Linked DNA regions of Homo sapiens: region 2 is linked to region 1. A link means that fine-mapping ties the variant in region 1 to the expression of a gene that starts in the linked region. Tissue or cell type: testis. Region 1 holds a variant in brackets; the other region holds the start of a gene. All regions are shown on one strand. Distances are between the middles of the regions.

Region 1 (8,106 bases):
TCTGGGTCTTCCTGGGGTTAGTTGGGGGTGGTTGTAATCATGACCTGAGTTAGGGACGGGGGTCCCTTTCTGGCCTGCTCCGTGTACTTTAGAGGGCTCCAGGGACCCCATAAACCTCTGTTGTCAGGTGACCCTGGAGTAGTAGGGGTCTGGCCCTATGTGGGGGTGCCAACCTTGAGGTCTCTGCTTCATTGATTCACCTCTTACTTGGTTTTCAGGCTTGATTTAGGGGCCTTCATTTATAAACAGTTGTTGAGCTGTTTATGAAGGGCCTACTATGTGCCAGAAACCGTGCTCGTCCTGAGGCTGTGGTGGTGTACAAGGCAGGCATGTTTTTGAACCCATCGACTTTGCAGACATTGTCATTTTAATTAATTACACCTGTGAGGAGTGTTAGGCAGTACAGCATGCTAACCTGGCCCCTGAGAAGCAAGGAAGTGACATTTAGCTGGGGCCTGAAATTGAGATTAGCCAAGTGAAGGCGTGGGAGGGGATTTCCAAGAGGGAACTCCTAAAGAGCCTGGTAAGGCTGAGACGCTGTGAAGGTAATTCAGGGCAGCTGCACAGAGAGTGGAGGTGGAGTATTGGCAATAGGTGAGGCGAAGAGACAGGCAAAGAGGGCCATGAATGCCGAGTTAAGGCTTTGAACTTGGTCCCTTCCCAAGGGCAATGGGAAACCATGGAAGGCTTTTGAGCTAGAGAGTGGCATGTTCCAATTTGGAATTTAGAAAGTTCACTGGTTGGGCACGGTGGCTCACACCTGTAATTCCAGCACTTTGGGAGGCTGAGGCGGGTGGGTCACCTGAGGTTAGGAGTTTGAGACCAGCCTGGCCAACACGGTGAAACCCCGTCTCTACCAAAAATACAAAATTTAGCTGGGCATGGTGGTACGCACCTGTAATCCCAGCTATTTGGGAGGCTGAGACAGGAGAATTGCTTGAACCTGGGAGGCGGAGGTTGCAGTGAGCCGAGATCGCACCACTGCACTCCAGTCTGGGCGATTGAGTGAAACTCCGTGTCAAAAAAAAGAGAAAGAAACAAAGAAACAAAGAAAGAAAAGAAAGTTCCCGCTGGCAGCAGGGACAGGAGGTCCCATTCAATGCCTATTGCAATTGTCTAGGAGAAAGGACAGTGGTTTGTACCACAATAGTGGCCGGGTGCGGGACAGAAGGAGTGAGTCAGGGAGACATTTTAGAGATAGATTTGACAGAATCCACAGATGAGCATGTCGAGAAGAAGAGGATCACGTCAAAAGTGACGCCCAGGATTTGGGCTTGGGTCATTGGATGGCTGGTGGTGCCTCTCCTCTCCTGGGAGGGAACACAAGATAGATGGAAAGCAGGTTTGTGGGAGATGATGACTTCAGTTTGATTTTCATTGAGCTGGAGATTCTTGTGGGATATGGGGTTGAGTAGGAGGTTGGACATAGATTTCTGGAGGTCAAGAGAGCACTCCAAGGAAATGATACAGATTTGGGAGGTATTAGAGACTGAGGCCATGGGAAGGGATGAACTCATCCAGAAAGATCCCACAGAGGGAGAAGAGGGGCCAAGACAGAGACCCGAGAGACATCATCTTAAAGGGAGGGCAGTGGAAGAAAAGCCAGTGAAAGAGATGCGAAAGAGACGGGAAAGGACTGGCCAGCAATATACGTGGAAAACAGGTGTGGTTTCATAGAGACCAAGAAATGCGGATCAAGAAGGAGGGGGCAGTCAACTATGCTGAACACAGCTAAGATAATTGGCAAAATAAAGACGGAAAAATATCTATTAAGATTTATGGACAAGATCATTGATGATCTGAAAGCCATTTTGGAATGGGTTGAGGAGAAGAAATGGAAACATAAGTATGGTCAATTCATCACAAAATTTGATTTTGAAAAGGAGGAGCAAAAGGAACAGTTGTGGGAGGGAAAATGGGGGAATCAAAGGAGGATTTTTTTAAATTTTAAAGATGGGGTCTCACCCTGTTGCCCAGGCTGGAGTGTAGTGGTGCAATCATAGCTTACTGCAGACTCAAACTCCTGGACTCAAGTGATTCTCTTGCCTCAGCCTCCTGGGTGCCACCACACCTGGCTAATTAAAAAAAATTTTTTTTTATGTAGAAGCAGGGTTCTCACCAAATCGCCCAGGGTGGTTTTGAACTCCCGACCTCAAGCAATCCTCCAGCCTTAGCCTCCCAAAATGTTGGGATTACAGGTGTGAGCCACTGTGCCCTGCTGGGAAGATATTTTCAAGATGAGAGAGACTTGAGGATGTTTTAGATGCCTGGCATTGGGTTTACAACTGGGAATAGCTTCAGCACCCATAATGGAAAGCCTATGAGTTTGTCTTGATAATCCCTTCAGATCGACTATGTCACCTTGGGCTGCCCACTGTGACAATTCTGTTTTCTGCATTTGCGATGCTTCTCTTTAGCGTCTCCAAGTAAGCTAGAACCTCCTACTTGCCCTTTCAGAACCTCATGGAGGCTAGTGGTCTGGGCAGTCTCAAAAATTCTTACAGTGATTCAGTTTTCCTGTTGGGTGGGGATGCCACCTCCTTTTCCATTGGATAAAGATGCTTGAAAGGAAAAAAGCTTTTTTGACATAGCGATCCATGTTGTCCCCATGCCCAGGGTTTACACATTCTGCTTCCAGAGTGTTAGGAAATAGATGAGTTGGAGAAATCCAGAAAACAAATAAATTGATTCTTGGCTTTTGGATTTTCAAAAGTAGGTTTGGCACTAGTCAAAAGATCTAGAAAATAACGTGAGCAGTGTGAGATTGTTTTTCCTGCTCGAAGAACAGATTTCCCAGGATTAGCAGGGAGAAGAAAGAGAGGAAGGAAGTGAGTTTGGATGTAAACATGTTATCGAGAGGAAAGGAAGCCCCAGGACCGCCAGCTTCAAATGGTCCGAGGTTTGCGGCTCTGAGAGAACGAGACCAGAGTTCAACCGCAAGCCTTGGCATGGCCAGAGTGTAGAAGAGTAGAAGTTACCACGTGTTGTGTTTAGGCCAGTGGCGGCTTAGGCGGTGCTCCTCCAAATTCCCCCAGCTGTAGAGCAGAAACCCCCACCCTCCTCTGCTCTTTGGAATGAGACAAAGCCCCAGTTTTCGTCATCTATAAAAGGAGAGTAATAAACCCTATTTAAGAGTAGCTGTAAGAATTAAATAAGATCACATAGATGAAAGCTCTTTTACACTGTCAAGCATTAAACAGACATAGGATTATTATTCTTTCAAAAATTATATACACACATAAAATTCAGCCTAGCAGAGAGGAGCATACATTTTTTTTTAGCTCCTTCCCAAACTGCTCACCTTGTTCAGCAGAGTGGGACACACACTGCGGTGGCCATGTTGGTTCTGATGAGCCCTTTCGATCCCATCCACCTCAGGCTTGTGGTGCTTTTCTTCTCTGCCAGTCCCACGTGTGCATATTATGATCTATACATGGTTGTATTTACACACTGATGTCTTGGTACTTACAACTGATAACTGATACCAAGATGATAGGAGGCGAAGTTTCTGTGGAGAGCAGGGCTAGATAAAGAAGTTTCGTGACCTTAAACTTTAAAGATTATGGTGATTACCACTACCTCTAATTAATAAATAGAAACAGTACTAAATCATAAAATATAACCAACTAAACTCTATTTTTCCCATTATAGCTTTATTGGTACTTCATCGAGACATCCAATTATTTTAAGAGTTTTTTTTTTTAAATTTTTCATGCTCTTTCTGGTACTAAAACCTGTGCTTACTATGCTGTCATCCTCAGACAGGAACCCAAAAAGGCCAAGTCGGGCTCGGCAGAAGCTTGAGTCTCGGTTTTTCCCCAAACCCTGGCTGTCAACACACAGATCTGTGTGAATGAGAAGCCCAGAACATTGGGTCGGGGTGGATCGAATGCAATGTTACCAGACAGAGCAGCAGCCGACGGCGCAAACTCATACCAACGTCACCCGAGCCTGCGTTAGCCCATAGCGACGCGGCAGCCTGGTTCCGGGGAGAACCTACCCGGGAGGCGGAGCTGGAAAGGGGTGAAGCCAGAGAGGGAGGGGGCGGGGCCAGGACTCAATTACACGCGAGAAGGGCGGGACCGGGTCCAGAGGCAGGAGCAAGGACAGACCCAAAAGGAGAAGCCAAAGGGTGGGCTCAAGCGCGCGGGGAGGACCAGAAAGGGGGCGAAACCAGAATGAGGGAGAATCTGGGGGTGGGCCGGGACTGGGCAGGGACTAGGAGAAGGTCCAGAAGGCGGAGGAAGCTGTGAGCCTTGGCCCATATCAGAAACCGGACAGGCCGGAGGGAGGAAAAAAGGGGCAGGGCCAGGGCCTGGAGGGAGGGTCATGGACGTAGGAAAGATTCAGGGGGCGGGACAGAGGCGTGACCAGGACTCAGAAGGCGTGCCCAAACATGGAAGGGCGGGAAGGGGCGTGGCTATGACATGAAGGCGGGGTTAGGCCTGGAGAGCGGCTCAGGACTAGGCTCTGAAGTCAGGGGGCGGGGAAGAGGCGTGCCCAAGCCGTGAAGCAGGGGCGGGGTTATAAAACGGGGGCGGGGCTAGGTCTGGAGGTCTGCTCAGGGGCTAGGCCAGGAAATCAGTGAGCGGGGAAGAAGGCGTGCCCAATTTGAAGGGCGGGTCAAGGGCGTGGTCAAAACATGGAAAGAGACTCGGGGCTACGCGTCTGGGCCGACCAGGGACGTGGCCAGGATTCAGGGGGCGGAGCAGGAGCGTGCCCACTTCGGAGGGCGGGGCGGGACAGGACAGGGGCGGGGCCAAAACACAGGAAGGGCGCAAGGCAAGGTCTGGGAGTAGATAGGGGCGTGGCCAGAAGTCGGCGGTCCGGGCTAGGTCTGGAGAGCGGCTCGGGGGCGTGACCAGGATTCAAGGGGCGGAGCGGAGGCGCGCTCAAACCCAGAAGGCGGGGCAGGGGCTGGTACAAGCCCAGGGAGCCGGGCGTGGGCGAGGGTGCAGCGGGGCCGACCCTAGCGGGCGGCGGACGGCGGACGGTCACAGGCGCTCCACGGCGGCGTGCAGAGG[C/T]TGCAGGCCTAGGAAGTGCAGGGCCAGGGCGAGCAAGCCGAGGAACAGCAGCAGCCTGAGCAGCAGGCGCAGGAGGGTCCGCGCCGTGGAGCCGCGGGGCCGCCGGGTCGTGGACTGCACGTATAGCTCCACGGCGTCGGCGAACCTAAACTTATCCGGCGCGTAGCCGAGCTGGGCGCGGGCCTTGGCTATCTGGAAGGTGTGCGTCACGGCCACGCTGCGCACCTGCGGGGACAGGCGGGGCATCCGAGGGCGGGCCTCGTGGGAGGAGGACATCCTCTACTTCGTTGTTTACGGAAAGGGAAAAGAGAGGGCAGGGATTTCCCCTCCATTACATAGTGATTTAAAAGGACCCGAGTGCAGCGTCTTGCTCCTGCGATGCCCTCATTAGAGAGGTCTTCCTTTCTTCCTTACATGTTCATTTTTATTGGAGGGTGCCGCCTTTGCGTCGCCCCCTCCAGCCCCGCTGAATTCGCACCCTATTTAACTCCTTGGTCCCTAAGAAGCAAAGGTCTCACCCCTACACTCATCTTCCCGGCCTAGCACGGTGCTGGGACTCAGGAGGCCCTTGATACATTCTTAGGCATCCGCTAGGAGAAGGTGAACGCCTGCCAGAAACATCTGCAGGAAACGACCTTGGCTTCCTGCCCCCAACCCCAGACCAACTGTGACCAGGAGGGCCCCAGTCGCAGCCTTCATGCCCTCGCTTATTAACTAAGCTTCCCTAAGAGAGGAATTCGATTATGCAGAACTGATTGCTCTCCAGGGTCTAAGCTGTGTTTCCCCTGCTGCCAGATGGCTTGGGGCCCACTGGTTTGAAGGGTAGTAATGATAGCTATCAGCAGTTAAGGAACACACACCCTGCATTTGGCCTGGACTAAATCCTTTCTATGCCCTACCTCATTTAATCCTCTCAGGTGGTACTAGCACTATCTGTTCTGTGCATACTTGGAAAAAGGTCAGAGAGGTTGAGTGACTTGCCTGGGGTCGCACAGGGGAGCCAGGTTCTAGCCTAATTTCTTCTCTGCTGTGCTGGCACCTGGAGATGTTCTCCCACCTGACTCATTTCTTCCTCTCTTTTTCCTCAGCCGGACCCTGGGGAAGAATCCACCAGCTGCTGGATTCTCCCATGGCATTGAAACAGCCCCTGGGGTCAAACCTGTGGTCTTGGATGCTTAATGGGGGGTGAGGAGAGAGGCCAGTATTTGTCCCTTTTTTTCCTAGTCAGTAAGTGCAGGGCTTTGGGGAGCACAGGAGTTGAGTTACGCTAGATAAGCAGGGTCCCTAATACACCTAGATGTCTCTAGATGTCACCTCTGGGAAGCTTTCTCTGACTTCCTCAGAGTTGGCTGAGGCGCCCCTTCTGTGTGCACTGGAGTTTCTCGCGATTTTCCCAAGAATGGCTCTAATTACAGTGTTGAGTTGCCTGGTTAGTGGGCTGTCTTCCCCTTTGAACTAGGAGCTCCCTAAGGGCAAGGACTATGTCTTCTTGCCTCCGTTGCTCAGCACAGTGCCTGGTAACATTTATGTTAAATGCATAAAAGGCTATAAAGTCAAACTGGAGGGCTGGTTGATGTGTCACAGATTGACCAGCAGAGGGTACCCGAGCCACAGCCAAGGAACTTCCACAGTTAAGGACATTGCCCCTGAGCTGAACAAGGAAATCCCCAAGTTAAACAAGAGGGAGAGGAGCCAAGTCCCTGCCTGACCACAATTCAGCTGCACCCTGGCAGCTATTTTATGTGGATGTGATTCCTGATGCATTTTCACAAGCTAATGGTTAAGCTTGAAATCACTGAGGTCTGGGTTCAAATCCCAGCTCTACCATTTAAGTGAGTGATCACGGGCAGGTTATTTCACTGTGTGTCTCATTTCCTCCTCTCTAAATGGAGAGGACAATGTTGTCTACAACTCAGTTAAATGAGATAAAGCACAGTGCCTGGCATACTGTCACAACTCAAGAGATTGTCAGTATCATCTTATTCTCTCCTCCACTGATCCGGATGGCTCAAAGGAGAAGCCATAGGTGACTACTTCTTTCTGTGGCCCATTCTCCACTCTCCCCCTCTGACTCCCCTTGTTAAAGAGCACTGAACATGGAGTCTGAAGCCAATTCCAGTATGGTGTGGCCTTGGACAAATAATTTTCCTAGTGCTCAATTTTTCATCATAAAATGGAGATCACGATTTTTTTTTGACCTTTTTAACTTAGCAGGGCATCAGAGACAATAAAACGAGAGTGGACTGGAAGTAATTTTTTTTTTTTTTTTAGATGGAGTCTTGTGCTGTCACCCAGGCTGGAGTACAATGGTGTGGTCTCAGCACACTGCAACCTCCACCTTCCAGGTTCAAGCGACTCTTCTGCCTCAGCATCCCGAGTAGCTGGGACTACAGGTATGTGCCACCACACCCAGCTAATTTTTGTATTTTTAGTAGAGACAGGATTTCACTGCGTTGGCCAGGCTGGTCTCAAACTCCTGACCTCAGGTTATCCACCCGCCTCAGCCTCCCAAAGTGCTGGGAACAAGTGTGAGCCACCGTGCCCGACTGGACTGGAAGGATTTTTGCAAATAACCTCAAATACCACCGATTACTTTGCTATTTACAATCTGTGATGAAAACATCCTCTCTTTTAACTAAGCAAATATAAACCTGCATCATCATTATTATGAGAATAGTATTCTGAGCCAGGCATGGTGGTGCATGCCTGTAATCTCAGCTATTTAGAAGGCTGAGGGGGGAGAATCTTTTTTTTTTTTTTTGGTTTTTAGGGGCAGGATCTCCATCTGTTGCCTAGGCTGGAGTACAGTGGTGCAATCTGCAGCCTTGAACTCCTGGGCTCAAGTAATCCCCCACCTGAGCTGGGACTAAAGGCATGCACCACCTTGCCTGGCTAATTTTAAAATTTTTTGTAGAGATGAGGTCTTGCTATGTTGCCCAGGCTGGTCTCAAACTCCTGGCCTCAAGTGATCCTCCTGTCTCAGCCTCCCAAAGCACTGGGATTATAGGTGCGAGCCACCACACCTGGCCAAGAGGATCTCTTGAGCTCAGGAGTTTGAAACCAGCCTGGACAATATAGTGAG
Region 2 (8,106 bases), 240 kb after region 1:
TTAGTTTTTCTTTTTCACAGGACCAAGATACCACAGCATTTCCAAACACTTGAGGAAGTGAAGATACTCACCAGACTGGATGTAAGACGCAGCAAATGGGTGGTTCCTAAATTGCTGAAGTCCTCATATCTACTGCCTGCTTTAATGAACAAACCAATTCTTGATACAGGAGAATAGTTTTCCAAAGAAGCAATCACCAAGCCATTTGGTAACTTGGTAAACTGTATTTAAAATAAAGTAGAGATATAATGAATGTCTTCGTATTACCAAGGAGAGTAAGGCATGTATAGCTTCCAGCGAGCAAGTTAGTGGGACTAACCTCAAGGTCCTGAGGTTGTGGCGGTGCTCCTGCAGGCGCAGCTGTGGCTTTAACTTTGGGGGCAACTTTGAGGGAATAAAATCTCTAAACATAAAAAACACAGGTTACACGTATTTCTCACAAGAACAGTGCTTTATATAAAAGCATGGTATCTTAGGGTACCCAAGCGACAGAGGGTGTTCGGGGGTGGAAGGAGCAATAACCACCTCCATGGGAGGATTTACCTGCATAACATTTTTTTTTTTTTTTTGAGACAGAGTGTCTCTCTGTCGCTCAGGCTGGAGTGCAGTGGCGCAATCTCAGCTCACTGCAACCTCTACCTCCTGGGTTCAAGCCATTCTCCTGCCTTAGCCTCCCAAATAGCTGGAATTACAGGTGCGTGCCACCATGTCCAGCTAGTTTTTGTTTTGTATTTTTTAGTAGAGATGGGGTTTCACTGTGTTGGCCAAGCTGGTCTTGAACTCCTGATCTTAAGTGATCTGCCCACCTTGGTCTCCCAAAGTGTTGGAATTACAGGCGTGAGCCACTGCACCCCGCCTAGCTGCATAACTTATTATGGACTTACTAACCCACCAGTTTACCCAAGCCATTCTTAAACCTCTATTTATTAGTGATTTATAGAGTTCTTGATGCTTATTTTTTAAATGATGTAAAGAATCACTGTATTTTCTTATCTTTCAGTTACCTTATAAAAGTTTCATGGTTCTGTGTAGTTCTAAAGCTTTGGCATTTTTTGAAAAAGTGTCAGATCACCCCATCCACAACCTTTTTTGTTGAGTTGGAGTCGTGCTCTGTGTCCCACGCTGGAGTGCAACAGTGCGATCTCGGGTCATTGCAATGTCTGCCTCCTGGATTCAAGCGATTCTCCTGTCTCAGCCTCCCAAGTAGCTGGGATTACAGGTACATGCTGCCACGCCTGGCTAATTTTTTGTATTTTAGTAGAGATGGCGTTTCACCCCATAGCTCAGGCTGGTCTCAAACTCCTGAGCTCAGGCAATCCACCCGCCTCGGCCTCACAAAGTGCTAGAATTACAGGTGGGAGCCACCACACCTGGCCTGTGTCCACAACCTTTTATAGGTTTCAGCTTCTTGCTTCTTTTATCTGCCCAATGAATGTCATCCGTTCAGTCTAATTTCCAATTGAAATGGTTTCATCTCCTTAATCATCTTAGTAACCTTTAAAAAAGACAAACTAGCCGGGTGCGGTGGCTCACGCCTGTAATCCCAGCACTTTGGGAGGCCAAGGTGGGCGGATCACCTGAGGTCAGGAGCTCGAGACTAGCCTGACAAACATGGAGAAACCCCATCTCTAATAAAAACACAAAATAAGCGGGGCGTGGTGATGCATGCCTGTAATCCCAGCTACTGGGGAGGCTGAGGCAGGAGAATCACTTGAATCCGGGAGGCGGAGGTTGCAGTGAGCCGAGATTGTGCCATTGCAGTCTAGCCTGGGCAACAAGAGCAAAACTCCGTCTCAAGAAAAAAAAAAGAAAAAGACAAAGTATATACCAACTTCCTCCAAGCCCTCAATATTTTCCATTGTATCTTCACTCTTGTGTGCTGTATTAAGACCACACAACCAAAGGTCTTAGTTTTTTTGACTAAATAAAACATTTATGACATGTATGTCATCCTGAGATTAATAATGGCTTCATCCACATCAGATTCTCAATATATAAAATGCAGTTACTGGTAGGGTGAAAGGGTCCCATTAAATATTAGATAATGGACCCAAAATGCATTCATTTTATTCAGTTTGTTTTGGCAAATGTTATACAATGCCATACAAATCATTCTGATTATGACTAAAGTTCATGAGGTTATTAGAGGAGATGATGAGTGAATAAAATTTGGTGCTCCCAAGACCCAATGAACACCTCCTCACTGGAGTTTCCCGGACATCCCTGCACAGTCTGCAATGCCTCCACTCTGTGCTGTCCAGAAGGCTGTTTGTTGTACATCATTAGTGCTGTACTAGGTTGGCTGCTGGTTATCACTTGCTTTTAGTACTGCTTTTCAGTTATGAATTACAATTAGCTTTACTTTATCGTCATCAATTTAGTTTGCTGGGTATGGTATAGTTAACCTTCTTTGTAATTTTGGCCTATAATTTTCCAAAAAGTAAACTTTTAAGATATATGGGCATAGCAATTCAAATATGAATAATCTATAATTCCGTTACCAAGTGAGATTTTAGGTGTTTTCCAACCAAATGTGCCCAAATAGTAACTCTTTGTTGGTAATTTTTTTTTTTTTTTTTTTTTGAGACGGAGTCTCGCTCTGTCGTCTAGGCTGGAGTGCAGCGGTGCGATCTCGGCTCACTGCAACCTCCGCCTCCTGGGTTCAAGAGATTCTCCTGCCTCAGCCTCCTGAGTAGCTGGGATTAGAGGCGCCCACCACCACCACGCCCGGCTATTTTTTTTTTTTTTGTATTTTTAGTAGAGACGGGGTTTCACCATGATGGCCAGACTGGTTTCGAACTCCTCATCTCAAGTGATCCGCCTGCCTCTGACTCCCAAAGTGCTAGGATTACAGGTGTGAGCCATCGCGCTCCGCCGGTAATGTGCTTCTTAATCGTCCCATTCAAATCAGCAAATTATCCTAGTAACTGTCATGCAATCTTCTAAATTATTTTGTTCTAATAACAAGATATATCTAAGTTTATTCTCCTATATAAAGTGCTAAAATTAGACACATAAATAATTGCTTTCAAGTTTACTGCAATTTGTTTACTTTGGGCCTCTCCAACTGTTTTCTCTGAGCTTTTTCTGTTGCAAAATAGAATGGAGAAGGAAATGTTGGGGTCTTTTGCCAATCTAACCGTGCTTCCCTCCAAGGGTAATCACTGGTGTGTCTAGGTATACCTGGAAGGTTAATGCAATTACAGCCTAAATCGATATAGCCCACAGCACATTTATGTAAACATAAAGCATAAGAACATTCCATGCCCAGGTCTGGTCTTCTGCATCTCCATCTAGGGGGGTTTCTCAACACAGGTACTACTACTGGCACTTGGGGCTAGATAATTCTTTGCTGTAAGGCGAAGTTTAGCAGCATCCCTGGCCTCTCCATGCCAATAGCACCCTCCTTACAAGTTGTTGCAACTAAATATGTCTCCAAACATCGCCACCGGTTCCCTGGGGGCATTCTGTCCCTCGCTATGATTTTTTAAGTGTTCCCCCTTACCCCTCTTAATAACCACTGTCCCACAGTGATATAACCCTGATGTGTGAGTTTTCCCCAAGTGACAGCTATGTTTAATTTAGGCTTGAAGGGGAAACTTAATTAAGGAGCTTTTGAGGACAAACAGAGACGTCTTGGAGGAACCGTCTAACATACGATCAAGAAAAGCAACGTTAGACTACTAAGACACCATAGTATTTAACAATGAAGTTCCAGGTACTGTAATAAGTGTTCTATCTGCATTAGCTCCTTTCTTATACTTTTATTCGCTGGGGAAACTGACGCTCCGTGATAAACCAAGGAGCAGAGGCTGCAGCGGATAAAGTGAAGGTGGGGGGCTAAGTGCGCCGTCCTCCCGCTCCCCCTGGGTTTCACGGTCTCTTTCTCCAGCACTTGAGTACCGGAGTGACCTTCAGAAGTCTCTCCAAGGACTCGCTTCAACTCCGCTCTCACGTCCTGCCCCTCTCTTCAGGTTTCCCGGTGTTAGGTCTCTTGTGCTCACAGCATGAGCTGGGCCTCCAAAGCCTGACCCAGTCTGCAGCCCACTTGGCCCGCAGGGTTCAGCTGAAGGGCAGACCGAATCCCAAGGCCCAGACCCCAGACCAGACACCTCCGCCTCGTATCACCTTGTCGACACACTGCTCCCCAGCCCTTTCCCAAACCCGCCACCTGAGCTCACCGAGAAAGAGCCGGCTCTGGTTAGTAGCTTCATGATTCAAGATTGTTCTGACACACGGTCACTGCCGGATTAAAGGAAAGCAAGATGGTGGCGGAGGCCGGGAGTTTCCCAGCGTTCCCCGCTAACACTTTCCCACGTCCCCTTCGTGAGGTACTCTCTATACTGCCGCGCTCTACTGCTCTCTTTATAAGGTTGGACCAGTCCAATTCCTCCAAGACTCAGAATAGGGAGACGCACAATTTCCCAAGTAAATATATGCAGAGAATAATGTACGTCACTGCTTTTTGCGTTCTTCTCCTAGCCTGAATATCCAGTATGCACCCCTTTTCTAAGTACGTCTGCAGCAGCCTGTCACAACTCCCCCCGCTATCTTGGGCTCTTCCGCTCAGCATTGTCCAATGGGACGCGCCTCTCTTGGGACTCCGCATGCGCCCTCCGGGATGACACCTGCACTGGAGGCCCTGGGTTTCCGCGTTCCTGGACGTTGGAGGCTTCAGGAGATTCCTGCCACTCCACCTTTCTGCAGAGGTATTGGGTATCGAAGCCCGGCGTAGTTGCCTCTCGCTGGGTGAAGTCCTTACTGGATCTTTAGCTCCGTGAAACAGGGGCCTCGTTCAACGTATTCGCCGCTGTGTCCCCCAGAGCAGGCCCGGGACACACCGGGAGGGTCAGCAACCTCGGGGAATCATCACAAGGCTTTTGGTCTCGTGGAATTTACGTCCTAGGCTGGGGCTACATAGAATATAAAAACTTAGCTATAGTTTTTGTGTTAGGAAAATAGAAATGTTTTGGATAGTAGGTGTGTTATGTGAGCCGAAACCGGCAGTTGGAGAAAGTCAGTCACGTGACGACTTGGGGCGGGGGCGTTCACTCCGGTCCTCAGCGAGTGTTAACCCAGAAAGTGCCTTGAGCTAGGCACTATGCCAACGCGAGAGGCGTGGTCCCTGCCCTTTAGGGACTTTAGAGTTTCGTACCTTGCTACGTTGCTTGGTTGGGAAACCGACAGTATCAGCATCAATATCATTTAGGAGTTGATTAGAAATGTATGAACTCCAGGTCCCATATTGGATCCGAATCGGTGTTTTTACAAGATCCTGGGATGACTTCGTATGCACAATAGTTTCAGAAAGGCTGGTGGTGTAGACGTTACAAGGCATAGGCAAATGTACTTTCTTTTTGCCTTGTGTCTGAATTGCTCCAGGCCTACAACGGACTTGGGCTCTCTAATTAAGATCTGGGCATTAAGAACCTGGCACCAACCCAATTTCTGTGCCTGCTGGGGACGCCCTCAACCCAATTCATACCACACAGTTTCCCCACATGTGGTAGATTTAACACTAGTGGTGCGTGAGATGATTTTAAGTTGGTACATAGATGAACACTTCCATTTTTTCCTTTTAAAAATTTGTATAAATTTAAGGGGCGCAAGTACAGTTATGTTATATGGATATATTGCAGTAATGGTGAAGTCTGGGCTTTTAGTGTACCCATCACCCGAATAATGTACATGGTACCCATTAAGTACTTTCTCATCGTTCACCTCTCTCCCACCCCTCCACCTTTCGGAGTCTCCATTGTCTGTCATTCCACACTCTATGTCCATGTGTACACCTTATTTAGCACTGTTCCATTTTAATAATATATTTATTTTGATTATGGCAAGCAATGCTAGTAGTGAATTTCCTCTTTAAGTACATTTATAAAATAATAAAAGTTGGTGTAAAAACGTTAAGTAACTTGATGATACGGAGATACAGCAAAAATCATGAATGTGTTATACAGGTACCATTGAGTGAAATCTGGGAAGCAGTGCTCTGATCAAGCCACCTGCCTGCTTAAAATTCTTCAACGACAGCCACGTTTTTCAGGATAAAATTCAAATTCATTAACATGGCATACAAAGCTGTCTCCAGTACTTCAAAACCCCAATTCCCAAGTTAGCTAGCTGCACCCCTGAGTCCAATCATTGTAACTTCATCATTCAACAGTTCAGGTCAGGTAGGAGGAACACAAAAGTCTCCACACTCAAGTGCACACACACACACACACACACACACACCCACACCTGCTTATAATGTCCTCTCATTCTTAGGTTATGACCCAATATCAGAAAGGGGCAAAAATAAATTCTGTTCAAAATGTGGCAGGATTTGAAACATAATTCATGATATCAGCTACATAAATCATAAAATCCCAAGTTTGTCAATTGCAAAATGTCCTATTAAGCATTAAGCTACAAATTAGGAGTGCCATCTTGTGGACACATCCACCACTTCCACATCATGTCACCTCCTAGCCAACTCCGTGGCTGTTCTCACTGTGGAGGTCTCTGCCACAACTCCAGCATTTTATTGCAGAAGAAAACCCAGTCCTTGAACTGGTTTCTGCGTAGAACACACTGAAAGCCCTGGGAGAGGAAACCAGCAGACAGGAAAAGAGTAGACATGGAAGAGCAGATGAGTTCATTGCTGGAAAGCTCGAATTGTTAGTTTCGTTAATGTGGGGTCCAATTTGACTCTATGGAGCCTAACTACCTAGCCTGAGCGCTCGCGGTGAGTATGGGGTGGGAGAATGTAAAGAGAAAGCAGGCAACAGTAGGAGTAAAACACACCAGAGGAAGGTGATGTGGGTTTATACTTGGGAACAACATTACCTTGCCATCTTAGGGCCAGAGGCATTAATCATGGCTTCCCCAATGCATAATTTCGATGTTGGCATTTCCTTCCCCATTCCTTTCAGAATCCTACCCTGTCAGGTATTATCTCTGATGAAATATTCCCTGGGCCAGGCACAGTGGCTCATGCCTGTAATCCCAGCACTATGGGAGGCCAAGGTGGGTGGATCACCTGAGGTCAGGAGTTCAAGACCAGCCTGGCCAACGTGGCAAAACCCTGTCTCTACTGAAAAAAAAATACAAAAATTAGCCGGGCATGGTGGCAGTTGACTGAAATCTTAGATACTCGGGAGGCTGAGGCAGGGAGAATTGCTTGAACCTGGGAGGCGGAAGTTGCAGTGAGCCGAGATCACTGCCATTGTACTCCAGCCTAGGCGACACAGCGAGACTCTGTCTCGGGGGGGAAAAAAAAGTTCATATCAATTTCTAATATTCTATAATTATTGTTTTTGGTCACATATACTTTTTCCATGTATTGAGGTGAACAGATTGGTCTTATTCTGTGTTAAGTTATATTGATTGATTCAAATTATAAATAAACCTTTCATTCCTGTTATAAACCCAACTTGGTCTGGATGTTTTATTCTTTTAATATATTGCTAGACCTAATTTGCTACTTATTTGTTTAGGATTTGTGCATTTATGTTCCAGAGTGATACTGGCTTTAACTTTCACTTTCATTCCCCCCATTCATGCATTTTTCTGTCATAGATAAAATGAGTTAGGAAGTGTGAAAGGAAAAAAAATCTCAGGGCCTCCAAATCACTAAGCCAAAGGGAAAATTCAAGCTGGGAATGATGTCAGACAAACCTGCCTCCCGTTTTATTCCTAAATAAGATAGCTATAAGGATAAAAAGCTACATAACTTACCTTACAATTTGCCCACAGGGCAATTCCATGTGGATCTGAGGATCTTTACCCTAAAACAGTTTTGTTGAATTTCACCCTGGCAATGTAAATTGATAGCTGTCTTCCTTCCTTCCTTTCCTTTTCTTCCTTTCCTTTCTCTCTCTCTCTCTGTCTCTCTTTCTCTGTTTCTCTCTCTCCCTCCCTTCCTCCCTCCCTCCTCCCTCTTTTTTTTTTTTTTTTTTTTTTTTTTGGAGAGTTTCACTCTTGTTGCCCAGGCTGGAGTGGAATGGCATGATCTGAGCTCACTACAACCTCCACCTCCTGGTTTCAAGCAGATTTTCCCACCTCAGCCTCCTGAGTAGCTGAGATTACAGGCATGTGCCATGATGCCTGGCTAATTTT

The links. PIP is the estimated chance that this variant, and not a neighbour inherited with it, causes the effect.
Region 2: UQCRC2 starts here. The variant in region 1 is fine-mapped to the expression of UQCRC2 in testis (GTEx, PIP above 0.99). The same link has a PIP of 0.9 or more in nucleus accumbens.

What each region holds. Positions count from the first base shown.
Region 1 is chr16:22,187,282-22,195,387 of GRCh38, reverse strand. SDR42E2 (short chain dehydrogenase/reductase family 42E, member 2) reads right to left here. Exons shown (of 13, transcript NM_001394319.2): 13 at 3,637-5,249. The coding sequence ends at 4,995. LOC124903666 (a long non-coding RNA gene) reads left to right here and starts at 7,376. Exons shown (of 2, transcript XR_007065028.1): 1 at 7,376-7,417. RefSeq lists enhancers at 1-90, 3,682-3,741, 4,242-4,321, 4,577-5,076 and silencers at 4,782-4,881, 5,022-5,071, 5,162-5,251. The variant C/T (reference allele first, on the strand shown) is at 5,025.
Region 2 is chr16:21,949,532-21,957,637 of GRCh38, reverse strand. UQCRC2 (ubiquinol-cytochrome c reductase core protein 2) reads right to left here and starts at 4,277. Exons shown (of 14, transcript NM_003366.4): 1 at 4,182-4,277; 2 at 320-403; 3 at 72-221. The coding sequence starts at 4,214. It also overlaps a transcript of PDZD9 not described here. RefSeq lists enhancers at 3,935-3,984, 3,995-4,164, 3,679-4,396, 4,485-4,944.